Linked DNA regions of Homo sapiens. Changing the gene in region 3 together with the main gene of any one other region gives a genetic interaction. Each region holds a gene or a part of one and is shown on either strand. Other genes may lie near its edges. The genes, in order: ATG10, KAT6B, KAT8 and KAT6A.

Region 1 (3,569 bases), on a different chromosome or scaffold from region 3:
ATTGGAAAAATAGAATAATTTTCTGTTTTTCCAAGTGAGGGTAGTCTTTCCAAACTGTAAGTTAGCCCTTAGACTAGAAGGATAGAAGAAGCTTATTCTGCTGCTGTTCAAATATATCTTTCCAGAAAAGCAGCCTTAGTGAATTCTAACACTGTATATAATCATTGTTTAAATGATCCTTTTTAATTGAAAACAATTTTTTCACTACCACTCTCCATACTGTTTAATGTGATTTTTAATCTAATGTGTGTAGAACTAATTCTTTGTTATTGTTTTAGTTGGAGACGTTGATTTGATGAATCTATAAATCAATGTACATCAAAGTCATAATAGGACTAAAACACTATAAGAAATATAACTGAATTTCCCAGAACTTAAGATCATTTACAAAAATGTGATTACCACAGAACATGCGATGCATACATTTAAACATTAAAAATCATTTTTGACTAATAAAGTAGGCAATTTCCTGAATACTTGTCCCTCCTAGCAACAATTCCACATTATTTATAACTCTAAGTGTAGACTCTTTTTTAAAAAACATGCACTATCAGGTAGGAGAGTTAAACATCAACCCACTACTTTTATGGCAATTTGGCTTGAATTGATTCAGATTAATTTAATCACTTACCTAGCAAGGTCCTTAGGCAGTGGTCCTCAAATTTTAGACAGCAAAGAAGCACCCACAGTGCAAATTCAAATGTGGAATCCTAGGCCTTGGCCAGAAAAATAACCTGATTCTGAAGACCCAAAATAATTACTTTTAATTAGCACCTGGGATACTTTCAAAGGGAATCATGCTAAAAGATTAGCATGATCCCTAGACAAAAGATGAATCACTTTGACAGGGCTGGTAAAAGACCTGGATTTCAAGACATTTGGCAGCCTGGGTGGGACACAGAAGGCATGGCCCTGGGCAATCCAATAAAATAGCACAGAGACACATCAGAAGAGAAGTCGTATCAGTCCTAACAACAGATGACCAGCAGGCTCAATTCTCCCTCCTTGCCTTCCCATTGGAATACATATTCCAAATCAAAGTTTAAATGAGAGGCAACACTGTACCTGGCTGGAAATGAGGAATCTCTGTTGGTAGCTGAGGCTTGCTCTGACCTCTCTATCACTAGGTCAGGGGAAAGAGGGTCATTTCACTCTCTCCCATTCCCTTCAGAGAAACAGATCCTGAGTTGCCCCTCCCCTCCTGGTTTCTAGCTCCACTGGTAATTCTCTTTCAAGGCAGTTCTCTCCCAGTAGTGCAGTGTGCATGGCCAGATGTGGAAGGTAAAGCCCTGAGGTGCACTGAGTACTGTGCAGCGAGCGACAGGTAGCTGCAGGAACAGAATGAGCTCTCAGCATAGTACAGTCTCACCACTAACACCCCAAAAAACTAAAAAAAAAAAAACTATAAATTATTTCAAATCACACAAAAACACTCCCCTCATTATAGTTACAGGACCGAAAGATTCAACACTAGGAAAGGAAGACCTCTCCTAAGTATAGAAAATGATCTATCCTTCATAAATTTCGTTGTACCCATTCATCTGCTTTCCAAGCTAACATAAAGAGGAAGATTCCTCCAGCTTCCAAGTGTAGTGAGAGAGACGAAGGAACACTTGGTCACTCTGACCAGTCAACATGCCCCTCTTTTGTCAAGGTAAGTAAACCAAAAACATTAATAACAACACAAGACCTTTAAGAAGCTCTTGCATAAGAAAAGAGGGGAACTACCATAAACAGGAAGAGGGAAAGCTTGCTCCTGTAATGGACTTACACTAGGAATATGGAAATCAAACCGAGGAATTATCTACTCTATGTTCCCAATTTTAAAAAGAAAAAGAGAAAGGGAAAGACCTCTAAAAGCAAGAGATGAGGAAGGAAAAACAGCTGAGATGAAAAAGGAAACTGGATAAGAAAAAACTGGAAGGAAATTCAAACACGTAACAGTAGAGATAAAAATTCTACATTCAAGGCAACAGAGAGATGTATAGAAGCTGGAAAAAAATCACATTCGTGTTTCAGTGTATAAGCACATAAGATCCTCTCCAAACACACAAAAGAAAAAAGACCATGATGAAAATAATGCATATTGTTTGATGGAAGGACAAAGAACACAGGTCCAACCTACAAATAACTGGAATTTCTGAACTACAATCATAAGCAAATGTACAACTGAAAAACTGTTCTAAGATGGAAAAAAAAAAAGATTTAAAATATTTACCTATAAATTGAAAGAATTCACCATGTTTCTAAAAAAAACAAAGCTGCTGGAAAGAAACTTATGCCTAAACATAGCCTACAGGAATATCTTAATTTAAAGACTAGAAAGAAAAAAAGATGCAGGCAAAAAAAAAAAAAAAAAGGTTTACCTACAATTAGCAAAAATCAGGGTAGCCTCTGCCATCTTCACCCACTGCAACAAATGCCAGATGATAGAGCAATGTCTGCAATGTCTGGGGATTTGATTTACACTTCGTATCTTAGCATCTATAACAGATAGGCAAACAGTAAACATTTTTTTTTTGAGACGGAGTGTCGCTCTGTTGCCCAGGCTGGAGTGCAGCGGTGCTATCTCGGCTCACTGCAAGCTCCGCCTCCCGAGTTCACGCCATTCTCCTGCCTCAGCCTCCCGAGTAGCTAGGACTACAGGGGCCCGCCACCACGCCCAGCTAATTTTTTGTATTTTTTAGTAGAGACAGGGTTTCACCGTGTTAGCCAGGATGGTCTCGATCTCCTGACCTCGTGATCCGTCCATCTCGGCCTCTGGAAGTGCTGGGATTACAGGTGTGAGCCACCGTGCCCAGCCAGTAAACATTTTTTTTTAAGTTGTAAATGAATAAAAGAAAAATTCAGACCAGGCACCGTGGCTCACGCCTGTAATCCCAGCACTTTGGGAAGCTGAGACAGGAGAATCACCTGAGGTCAGGAGTTCAAGACCAGCCTGGCAAACATGGCAAAATCCCTTCTCTACTAAAAATACAAAAATTAGCCAGGTGCAGTGATGTGCACCTGTAGTCCCAGCTACTCCAGAGGCTGAGGCAGGAGAATCACTTAAACCCAGGAGGCGAAAGTTGCAGTGAGCTAAGATTGTGCCACTGCACTCCAGCCTGGGCGACAAAGCGAGACTCCATCTTAAAAAAAAAAAGAAAAATTCAAAAATTTGAATGGACTTATTCTATACACCTCTTCTCATTTATAGTACCTTTCTTCAACTTTCAGGCCTGTTCACTTCTTGGACCTTTCTTACACAAACTGATGTACACTTTGCAAGGCCGAGGTAGGAGGATCACTTGAGGCTAGGAATTCAAGGTTGCAGTGAGCTATGACCGTGACACTGCCCTTTAGCCTGGGAGACAGCAAGATCCTGTCTCTAAAACAAACAAACAACAACAAAAAAAACCACAGATCTATATGACATCCAATCTTTCTGATACCAGTATCATTACTTTTATCAAAAGATAATTTTTTAATAAAACTCTGCAAGCACATAAGAAAAAATGTTCCACCACTGATGACAATTTGAGCTGATCCACAGCTCAAACTCTCTTGCTGCCTTTGAACAGTGGGTAGTA
Region 2 (3,569 bases), on a different chromosome or scaffold from region 3:
CCTTCTCCACTTCGGCAGACTCCATGTGGCTGTCATCCTCGTCATCGGCATCATGGTCCTCGTTGTGGGATGGCTCTTCATCCTCTTCCTCCTCCTCTTCGTGATCATCCAAACGTGCAGAGTCTTCTTTTTCCGTGGAGATTTCTGGTTCCTCTTTTTCTTGGCTTTTAGCACCATCTGGATCTTTTTCTACATTTCCTCCTCCTTCTTCTTCTTCCCCTTCCTCTTCTTCCTCTTCTTCCTCTTCCTCCTCCTCCTCCTCTTCCTCTTCCTCAGGTTTGATGAGATCATCTTCTGGTTTTTCACCTGGTGATGTGTTTGGACTTACAGGGGCACATGTTTCTTCCCTTCTGTTTTCCTCTTGAGGCAACAGGGCTTCCCCAGTTTCCTTGACCTCCTCCTCAATCCTGATGGGACTGGGGCTGGTTTTTCCTTCTGAAGTCTCCTTCTGTTCTTCCACTGTTACCTGCTCGTCAGGCTCCATGGGTGTTTCTGGCGGGGTGTACAAATTCAGTTTAAATCCGGTCTTCCTCTCTTTGTTTTGCCTCCACTTAGATAGACCGCGCTTTGTTCCTTTTGGCCACACTTGTTTGCACTTTAGAGGTTCGGGATTGTCTTTACTGCCTTCTTTCAAGTTACTTGAATCATCATTCATATTGTCTTAGTGAAGAGACAAAAACGGGAAGGAAAAAAAACAGTCTTAGAAAGCATAACCATGGGCAACTTGAATTCATTCCTCTAAATTAATTAGCAAACACTGCTTTCAATTTGGCATGTTAAAAGTTGATGGTAAAGACATAATCAAGGCTAATGTGTAATAATATTGTGTTATAAACCAAGTAAATAACCTAGGCCTGGGAGAGTAACATATTGGGAACACATGGATATAGGCAATGCTAATGTGCTTATTTGAATTTAATGAACAAGACATTCTCTGATGCAAAAGCCCAGAGTTCCACAGTGTAAAAAAAAAAATCAATTTGAACATTTACAAATTAGGAAATATAGGGGAAAGGAATTAATGCTAGCTTATATACAAATCATTACTGTCCTGGAAAAATGACTAGAAGCCTTAACTCTCATATCTACCTAGAGAAAGTAAACCTCTGTTTGTGGACATTTATAGGATGTAAATGATCTTGGAAGACATGATTTATTTACTTTGATTTGAATGTTCTCTCTGGCATAAAAATAAGCTGTGTACCTCTGAAACAAATCAGTAAATAACTAAATACCCAAAACAAATGCATTTGTAATCATCATTTTTAGGATCATCATTTTTGCATGATACAAACTACAATGTAATTACTAGCAAATTCCTGAACATTTAAAATACAGGTATTCTTTTTAACACTAATTCTGTCCACACTGAATTCTGGATCAATATGTTGCTGATGTAAGGTTTGCATATTAAAGACACTTAGAAACAAACCATAATTGTGAAGTTCATTTCAGTTCAGGTGAGCTTTTTACTGAACCTATATGCACATGTTAATATAAATGTAAATATGTACATATTTATACAAGCAGATGAATAGCTATATACATATTAATAAATATATATTAATAAATATATGCATGAAGCACCCAAGTATTCTTAAGATCTTTAGATTACACCAATCTTCTAGAATCAGTGGTCAATTTAAAGGAAAAGCTTTATATAGAACAATAGTCTTATTAGAAACTCTATTTTGGAGAATAAAAATAAGATCTCACAATCATCATAAAACAGATATCCCTTCTGCCAGAATAGAGTGAGTTCTAGTCCAACTGGTGGACAGCAGAGTAAGCACTGGCTGATTTAGGTAATAAAAGGATTACAGATAAACTTACCTGCAAGTATTACATTCAAACCGACCAGCTGAAAAGAACACATATGTGATGTAGAATGTTTCCTTGAGAAGTGCCGAGTACCATGCCCGAGTTAAGAGTCATCTCAGGACATTTCTATTCACAATGGCAGGTAATAGCCATGCCAGTGCCCCCGGATTCCACATTCTTTTTATTTTTGAGACGGAGTCTTGCTCTGTTGCCCAGGCTGGAGTGCAGTGGCATGATCTCGGCTCACTGCAACCTCTGTCTCCCAGGTTCAAGCGATTCTCCTGCCTCAGCCTCCCAAGTAGCTGGGACTTACAGGCATGCATCACCACACCCAGCTAATTTTTTTGTACTTTTGGTAGAGATGGGGTTTCACCATGTTGGTCAGGCTGGTCTTGAACTCCTGACCTCAGGTGATCTGCCTACCTCGGCCGCCCAAAGTGCTGGGATTACAGGCATGAGCCACCATGCCTGGCTGGATTCTGCATTCTTATTCTACGTGCTACTGGACCTACCGGCTTTTGTTGGAACACCTCCCAAAATCAGAAGATGAGCTTTCTGACAATTATTTTTAAGAAAGAAGGACATCCTGAAAGGAATCAGGCATAATATGAGAAGACAGCCAAGAAGGGGAAATAAACCTCATTTTCACACACAAAATGATCGCTCACTGCAGTTTGTTATTTGTTTAAAAAAAAAAAACCCAAAGAATAAGGCTTGGTTTCTCTATACCCAGGGTAAGAAGTCATTCCTTCAGCAAAATACTGTATGCAGGAATAGCATTTCTGTGAACTAAGAAAATCAAGAAGATGCTTGCATATGTTCTTAAAACTGTGGCTTTTCAAAAGCTAGAGTGATCCTGTGGTTCCCAGGGAAATGAGATGGCCTGTTCCCCAGATTAAAGTAAGTTCTGAATAGAGTCATCTTGGCCAGGGAATAGAGAGAGTATACCATAAACCCTCATGATTCAGCTGGGAGCACACGTTCTCAACCTGACAGGCAAGGATGGGTGCTTTTAAAGACGATTCACTGGTGTTCAGTGTATTTTTTAGAGGATGGGGTAGAGGTGTCCCTGTCAACTTAAAAGGAAAGTCAGTTTACTGATTTTTATGTTATGCAATATTATCAAAGCTAATATTGATGTGTGGGTAAGTTTAGATGGTTCCTTTTTTTTTTTTTTTTTTTGAGAAAGGGTCTCATTCTGTCACCCAGGCTGGAGTGCAGTGGCACGATCATGGCTCACCCTGAGCTCAGGTGATCCTCCCACCTCAGCCTCCCAAGTAGCTGGGACTATAGGCACACACCACCACTGCTGACTAATTTTTGTATCTTTTGTAGAGATGGGGTTTTGCCATGTCGCTCAGGCTGGTCTCAAACTCCTGGGCTCAAGTGATCCAGCTGCCTCAGTCTCCAAAAGTGCTGAGACTACAGGTGCACACCACTACATCTGATTAATTTTTGTATTTTTTTTAGAGTAGGGGCTTTGCCATGTTGCCTAGGTTGGTCTCAAACTCCTGGGCTCAAGTGATCCACCTGCCTCAGCCTCCCAAAGTGCTGGGATTACAGGTGTAAGCCATCATGCCCAGCTTAGTTTAGATGAATCTTTATAGTAGTATATACTACGACACTACTGATTATAAAATGTACTATTGATTTACTAATATTTGTTTTCCAGGAAAAAAGAAACGATTCCATTCAATGCTCACACTGATAATAATATATACCTTGATTTCAGAAATAACTAAATGTGA
Region 3 (3,569 bases):
CAATTCTGAACCTAACCACTGTAAAGATGAGGAAGAAAGATTTTCCTCCTCACACATCTCTTTAAAACACATTTCCCAATTCTCACAAAATACAGTACTCTTCTGCAAATGCAATAAAGAACTACAAAAACACTACTTTTCTTAATTGTTGCAATTTATTTAGAATTAAACATTAATTAGGCTCTGAAGAACCTTGCTGATTGTTAACTGGATGATTGTTTCATTACCTATTCTTTGATTTTATCACCACTGGCCCGTTATCCACCCTGCTGGTTGCCAACTCAGAGGTATGTCTTTGTTGAGTGCAAAACAGTTGAGGAATTAATCTTAGATCTACACTGTCCAATAAAGTAGCCACTTGTCACATAGGGCTATTTAAAATTATACTCAGCTAAACGTGGTGGCTCACGCCTGTAATCCCAGCACTTTGAGAGGCCGAGGTGGGAGGACCACTTGAGGCCAGGAGTTCCAGACCAGTCTGGCCAACATGGCGAAACCCCATCTCTACTAAAAATAAAAAATAAAAAATAGCTGGGTGTGGTGGCACACGCCTGTAATCTCAGATACTTGGGAGGCTGAGGCACAAAAATTGCTTAAGCCAGGAAGGCGGAGGTTGCAGTAACCCAAGAGCTCGCCACTGTACTCCCGCCTAGGTGACAGAGTGAGACTCTGTCTCAAAAAATGAAAATTTTGGCTGGGCACGGTGGCTCACACCTGTAATCCCAGCACTTTGGGAGGCCGAGGCAGGCGGATCAGTTGAGGTCAGGAGTTTGAGGCCAAACATAGTGAAACCCTATCTCTACTAAAAATACAAAAATTAGCCAGGCATGATGGTGCGTGCCTGTAGTCCCAGCTACTTGGGAGGCTGCGGCAGGAAACTCACTTGAATCTGGGAGGCGGAGGTTGCAGTGAGCTGAGATCGCACCACTGCACTCCAGCCTGGTTAACAGAGTGAGACTCTGTCTCGAAAAAATAAAAATAAAATTTTTTTAAAAAATGATAATTAATTTTTTTTTGAGACAGTCTTGATCGGACACCCAGGCTGGATGGAGTGCAGTGGCATGATCTTGGCTGACTGCAACCTCCATCTCCTGGGCTCAAGCGATTCTCCTGCCTCAGCCTCCTAAGTAGCCGGGATTACAGGTGTGCACCACCACGCCCGGCTAATTTTTGTATTTTTAGTAGAGATGGGGTTTTGGCCATGTTGGCCAGGCTGGTCTCAATCCCCTGACCTTAAGTGATCCACCCACCTCCGCCTCCCAAAGTGTTGGGATTACAGGCGTGAGCCACTGCACCCATAATTTAAAAATTTTTTTTTTTTTGAGACGGAGTCTCACTCTGTCACCCAGGCTGGAGTGAGCCCAGGATCTCGGCTCACTACAAGCTCCACCTCCCGGGTTCACGCCATTCTCCTACCTCAGCCTCCCGAGTAGCTGGGACTACAGGTGCACGCCACCACGCCCGGCTAATTATTTTGTATTTTTCAGTAGAGATGGGGTTTCACCATGTTAGCCGGGATGGTCTCGATCTTCTGACCTGGTGATCCACCCACCTTGGCCTCCCAAAGTGCTGGGATTACAGGCGTAAGCCACCGCGCCCAGCTAAAATTCTTAATTCTTCGTCACACTAGACACATTTCAAGTGCTCAACAGCTACATGTGGCTAGTGGCTACGGTACTAGATAGTACAGCTATAGAACATTTCCATTACAATAGGAAGTTCGATTCGGCAGTTTAGACCTTGAGGAGTTCTTCCAGTTTAGGGTATTTCAATTTTTTAAATCACACCACAGTAGGAAGTACACTTGGCACTGTAACATGTCTGTATATACACACAAGTATGTGCTAGGATCATCGGGAAGGTAAGGCTGGAACAAGAGGAATCCTGCACACTTTTATTGGGTGTGAAATAAAAGCTTCTCAAAACAATACCTACACTTAATAAAGTGCAACACCCTGATTTTTCTATCTTATCCACTTTCTTTCTTCCATTTAAAGAAATTTAAATGTTGGGCTTGCCCACTAACTCATGTACTCAGAAGGATGAAGCTGCAATAGCTGAAAGTAACAAATGTCTGGGTGTCTGGAGACTTTGACAAATCTTGCTCTGGTGTGCACTCCTGATTTTTATAAATTTAGAAACTGAGACTTGGTCGGGCGCAGTGGCTCACACCTGTAATCCCAGCACTTTGGGAGGCTAAGGCAGGAGGATCGCTTGAGACCAGGAGTTTGAGACTAGTGTGGGCAACATAGCAGATCCCGTCTCTACAAAAAAATAAAAAATTAGCTGGGCATGGTGGCACGTGCCTATGGTCCCAGCTACTCAGGAGGCTGAGGCAGGAGGATTGCTTGAGCCCAGGAGGTTGAGGCTGAAGTGAGCCATGATTGTGCCACTGCACTCAGCCTAGACGATAGAGTAAGACGCTGTCTCAAAAAAAAAAAATAACAATAATATGTACAATTATTAAGTATCAATACAAGAAAAAACCAAGGCAGGTACAGGGATGCACTCCTGTAGTCCCAGCTACTTAGAAGGCTAAGGCAGGAAGAACATTTGAGCCCAGGAGTTCAAGTCCAGCCTGAGCAACACACCAAGACTCCCGTCTCTTAAGAAAAAAACCAAAATCATTGCTAAGGCCTCTGGCTCTGAGGTAGCACAATTTAGCTGGTTGATCAAATTCCTGTCTGGGTCCCTAAACTTATCTGTAGCTCTTCTGCATGCTTACTTCACAGGCCTACTGTGAAATGTCAGTGAGGTCATGTATTAAAACACTTAGCTTAGGCCGGGCGCAGTAGCTCACGCCTGTAATCCCAGCACTTTGGGAGGCCGAGGTGGGCAGATCACCTGAGGTCAGGAGTTCGAGACCAGCCTGACCAATATGGCGAAACCTCGTCTCTACTAAAAATACAAAAATTATCCGGGCGTGGTGGCAGGTACCTGTAGTCCTAGCTACTTGGGAGGCTGAGACAGGAAAATTGCTTGAACCCAGGTGGCGGAGTTTACAGTGAGCCGAGATCATTCCACTGTACTCCAACCTGGGCGACAGAGCAAGACTCCGTCTCAAAAAAAAAAACAAAAAACAAAACACACACACACACACACACACACACACACAAAAACCATTTAGCTGAATACTTCTGCTCACCGGCTAACAAGTGTTTGGCATTATTATTCTAATTCCAGCCCACCGTTTTACTGGCTGTGTGACCTTGGGCATGTTACTTAATCTCTCTCAGCCTGCTTCCTCACCTACCAAAAAAGTAACTATTCCTGTGTGTTGAATTGTTGGGAAGGATTTGAGGAGCTTATACATATACAGCACTTGGCAGGGTGCTTGGCTATAGCAACTGCCGAATAACATTCTCGTCTTTCCCACTGAACTTCAAGTCATTTTTTCTACTAAGACACAGCTACTAGGAGACAAAAGAGGCTACCAGTGCCGGAGGCCTGAGTTCTAGTCCCAGCTGTGCCATTTCCTTGCTGTGAGACTGCAGCGAAGCCCTTACCCTCTGTCTGTTTTCTTACCTATGAAAAGTAAGTAAGAGGAAGTAGGTAAAGTCCCTGACACA
Region 4 (3,569 bases), on a different chromosome or scaffold from region 3:
GCTGTTCCCACAGATGCTGCCGCCCATCGTGGAGTCGTAACTGCTTGGGTTCTCATAGTTTTCAGTGGTGCTCTCAATGCTGCCCAGGTCACTGAAGCCGCTGTCCACCACCTGCTGAGAGTGGTCTGATACGGAAGGCACATCCATCATGGGGCTGGTCTCCATGTTCTGCATAGAGGGTGCGGACAGGGATCCTTGTTCTGGGCTGATCTGGGTGTAGCCACTCTCAAGGGCAGGCACGTTGGGACTGCTGACCGAACGGACTGACTGGCTGGGGTGAGACTGAACGGAGGAGATAGGGCTATTATGTTCTGACGCATGACAGTCTTCAACCATGGACATCTGAGGGTCCTCGTCAGCCTGGGTGTAACTCTGCAGGGTCTGACACGCCGCAAGAGTTTCCTCACAGTCCTGGTAGGCGCCCTCATGCTCACTGCTTTCTTCTTGAGTCAAAGACTGCACTGCCTGTACAGTTTCCAGATCCAGCTCACTATGAGGAATCTCTTCCTCCTCTTTTAATTCGATTAACTCTTCCTTAGTGTGGGAGTCTTCTTCGTGGTCGTCCTCAGACCCAGCCATCTGCTCTGACACCACGGACGTGTCATGGGAAGGCTGCTCCTCTTCGGAATCCAGCTCGGTTTCCTCTTTATCCTTTATCTTTTCCCTACTCTTCTGCATATTAGCATCTAAAAAAGACTCTTGAACACCAGGCTCCTCCTTGACATCTTCCCTCGTGGGCTGTTCCTCTAGCTCCTTTTTCTTTGTGGACTCCAGGTGGCCATCATCCTCATCATCAGCGTCGTGGTCGTCATTCTGGGCAGTCTCTGCAGCTGCATCTTCCTCCTCCTCTGGCTCTGGCTCCTCTAATTCCTGCTGCTCCTCCTCTGACTGCCTCTGCTCCTCTGAGACACGGGGCTTCTCTTCTTCCTCCTCCACCTCAGGCTCCTTGGTTTCGGTCTCAGGACTATTGCTGCTGTCTGCTGGAGAGGCTGCTGGGACTTCACTGCTGGCTGCATCCTCTTCCTCACCCTCTTCAGCCTCTTCTGCCTCTGCTTGCATCTCCTCCTCCTCCTTCCTCTCCTCGGGTAGGGGCATGTCTTCTTTTGGCTCAACAGTTTCTTCACTCTCCTGGATCTTGGGTTTACGTCCAGCTTTAGGAATGGAAACGATGGGCTCAATGACGCATGCTTGAGTAGAAACTGGCATGATTTCCCGACTCAACTTAAATCCTGGTTTTCGACCAGGTCTTTTCTTCCAGTGGATTGGTTTGCGGCTCTTGCCTTTGGGCCATCCCTTTTTCTTTTTCAAAGGTGTGGATGTATCTGGCTCAAGAGGAGAATTCTTCACATCACGTTTTCGCAAAAGAGATACTGGCTTTAAGATAGGAGTGTCTATACAGGAAGGAAAAAAAACAAAGACAGGTTACAAGGTCTTACATTTTCTAGTTCCTTCTTCCAAGACTAGCATATACAATAGAAATGACTTTATTAATCATTACTTTTATAAACTCCTGATTGTCTTCATTTTAAAGTTAAGAACCTAGAGGATAAAACTAATTAGTGACATATTCTAAGTCACACAGTGAATTGGCAGAACTATGAAAGAATCCTGGTCAACATTATGTTATCAGACACTAGTCAGAACCAATTCAAGACTACCATCATCAGCTGCATGTCTGTGGGAAGTTACTCTACATTTCAGTTTCATCATCTGTAAAATGGAGATGAACTTTATAAAGAGGCAAATAAGTAGTAAGCAGTACTTTTATCAAGTTGTCTCTACTAAAAGTTACAAATTAGCTTATTTCCTCTTTTTTTTTCTGCTTGTGATTTACTTTATCTCTCGGATTTTCTTACTTTCCACAAATCATCACTTCAGGTAGTATGATGAGCCAATTACTCTAGGCCATGACTGAGCCATCGTATGTGAACAGTTGTTCAATTAATGTTGTGTTTGTATGGGAATAGCTGCAAAGCATTTATTTAGTCCTAGACAAAAACTGACATTTAGACTTAGACAAACAAGAAAAAATTAAAGCACCAATTACATTCATTAGAAATAAATTTTATATTATTAGCATTTTAAAAAAACTATGGTAAACTATACGTAACATAAAACTTAAAATTTTAACCATTTATAAGTGTTAAGTTCAGTGGCATTAAGTACACTCACATTGCCTATTAATTTTTAAAGAATAAGAATACCAAGACAAGAACATGATGCAGTGGGGGCACGGCTAAAAAGGCACAGTTAGTAGTAGTAACTTGAAAGTCAACAAAGGAAATGGCTGCATCAGCAAAAATCTAAGTCCATGGGAACTTAATCAGGGGTACTATTTTAGTGTACAATGATCTAAGACAGAATATAAAGTGCTAAATTTACAAAATAAATTTTTAGTTTCCTAGTTATGTTATTTCAAAACATAGCAAGTTAAACTCTGTAGAATCATTCATGATAGAGCAAAGAACACATTCATCTTATCACTATATTAAAAGTATTTGTTGGCCAGGCAGGGTGGCTCACACCTGTAATCCCAGCACTTTGGGAGTCCAAGGCGGGTGGATCACTTGAGGTCAGGAGTTTGAGACCAGCCTGGCCAACATGGTGAAACCCCGTCTCTACTAAAAATACAAAAATTAGCCAGGCATGGTGGCGTGCACCTATAATCCCAACTACTTGGGATGCTGAGGCACGAGAATCGCTTGAACCCGGAGGTGGAGGTTGCAGTGAGCTGAGACTGTGCCACTGCACTCCCACCTGGGTGACAGAGGGAGACTCCATCTCAAAAAAATAAAAAATAAAAAATAAAAAAGTATTTGTTATATAGAAAATATGAGAATGGAGAAAATGTAAGTTTATCTTCTAGACTTGAAACTGACTGAATTTTTAAAAGAATTAAAAAGTTCAACCAGTTAATGCATAAAAGCTAAAGGTTTATGTACCAAGACTGGACAAGTAGATTTCTTCAAATTTGCCCAACAAAGTAAAAATGCTCATTCTGAGCCCATGCGAGATAAACACACTGCAGATGCAGGCAGCATGAGACACTGGCAAAACTTTAGGCTAGGGTGAAAAAGACTTGTTTCTGACCTGGCTCATATATATGAGACCTAGTTTCAGTGTCTCTAGAGAAGAAATGACAACTAGGCTGCTTTAAAAGTAAATAGTTGGATTTGTATCTATACTATAAAATTTATTTTGAGTTATTGTTACCATTTGTGAGAAATTTACTACTAGTTGGGTAAGACACATTAGAGATACAATTCAGGAAAGACTCCTGAACAGATGTGACACAAGTTCCAATTTACATGAATCTGCTCTTTCTGGAGAATTGTCTTCTTAGCATTCACTCATTTAACACTACTTACTGAGCGCCGGGCTTAAGCACTCAGCATACAGCAATGAGCAAAACAGACTAAGTCTAGAGAATGCACATTCTAGTGAAGGGTTATTACATCTTCCTGATGCTAAGTCCAACTCTCCCATTAACTAAAGATTCTGATAAAGGCTTAGAAAGGATTGGGCAAAAAAGAACAGTTGCCTAATAGTAAGATATTTTCTGCAGAGGC

What was found.
Region 1: of KAT8 (region 3) and ATG10, changing one enhances a phenotype caused by changing the other (phenotypic enhancement), as found in Homo sapiens cells (one large-scale study listed by BioGRID).
Region 2: changes in KAT8 (region 3) and KAT6B together harm fitness more than expected from each alone (negative genetic interaction), as found in Homo sapiens cells (one large-scale study listed by BioGRID).
Region 4: changes in KAT8 (region 3) and KAT6A together harm fitness more than expected from each alone (negative genetic interaction), as found in Homo sapiens cells (one large-scale study listed by BioGRID).

The regions. Positions count from the first base shown.
Region 1 is NC_000005.10:81,978,480-81,982,048, reverse strand, and holds part of ATG10 (ubiquitin-like-conjugating enzyme ATG10), read right to left. Parts: exon of another isoform or gene 3,200-3,569; intron 2,550-3,199; exon of another isoform or gene 2,371-2,549; intron 1,142-2,370; exon of another isoform or gene 632-1,141; intron 1-631. UniProt on the Homo sapiens protein: E2-like enzyme involved in autophagy. Acts as an E2-like enzyme that catalyzes the conjugation of ATG12 to ATG5. ATG12 conjugation to ATG5 is required for autophagy. Likely serves as an ATG5-recognition molecule. Not involved in ATG12 conjugation to ATG3.
Region 2 is NC_000010.11:75,025,580-75,029,148, reverse strand, and holds part of KAT6B (histone acetyltransferase KAT6B), read right to left. Parts: intron 661-3,569; coding exon 1-660. UniProt on the Homo sapiens protein: Histone acetyltransferase which may be involved in both positive and negative regulation of transcription. Required for RUNX2-dependent transcriptional activation. May be involved in cerebral cortex development.
Region 3 is NC_000016.10:31,120,632-31,124,200, reverse strand, and holds part of KAT8 (histone acetyltransferase KAT8), read right to left. Parts: intron 1-3,569.
Region 4 is NC_000008.11:41,933,477-41,937,045, forward strand, and holds part of KAT6A (histone acetyltransferase KAT6A), read right to left. Parts: intron 1,392-3,569; coding exon 1-1,391. UniProt on the Homo sapiens protein: Histone acetyltransferase that acetylates lysine residues in histone H3 and histone H4 (in vitro). Component of the MOZ/MORF complex which has a histone H3 acetyltransferase activity. May act as a transcriptional coactivator for RUNX1 and RUNX2.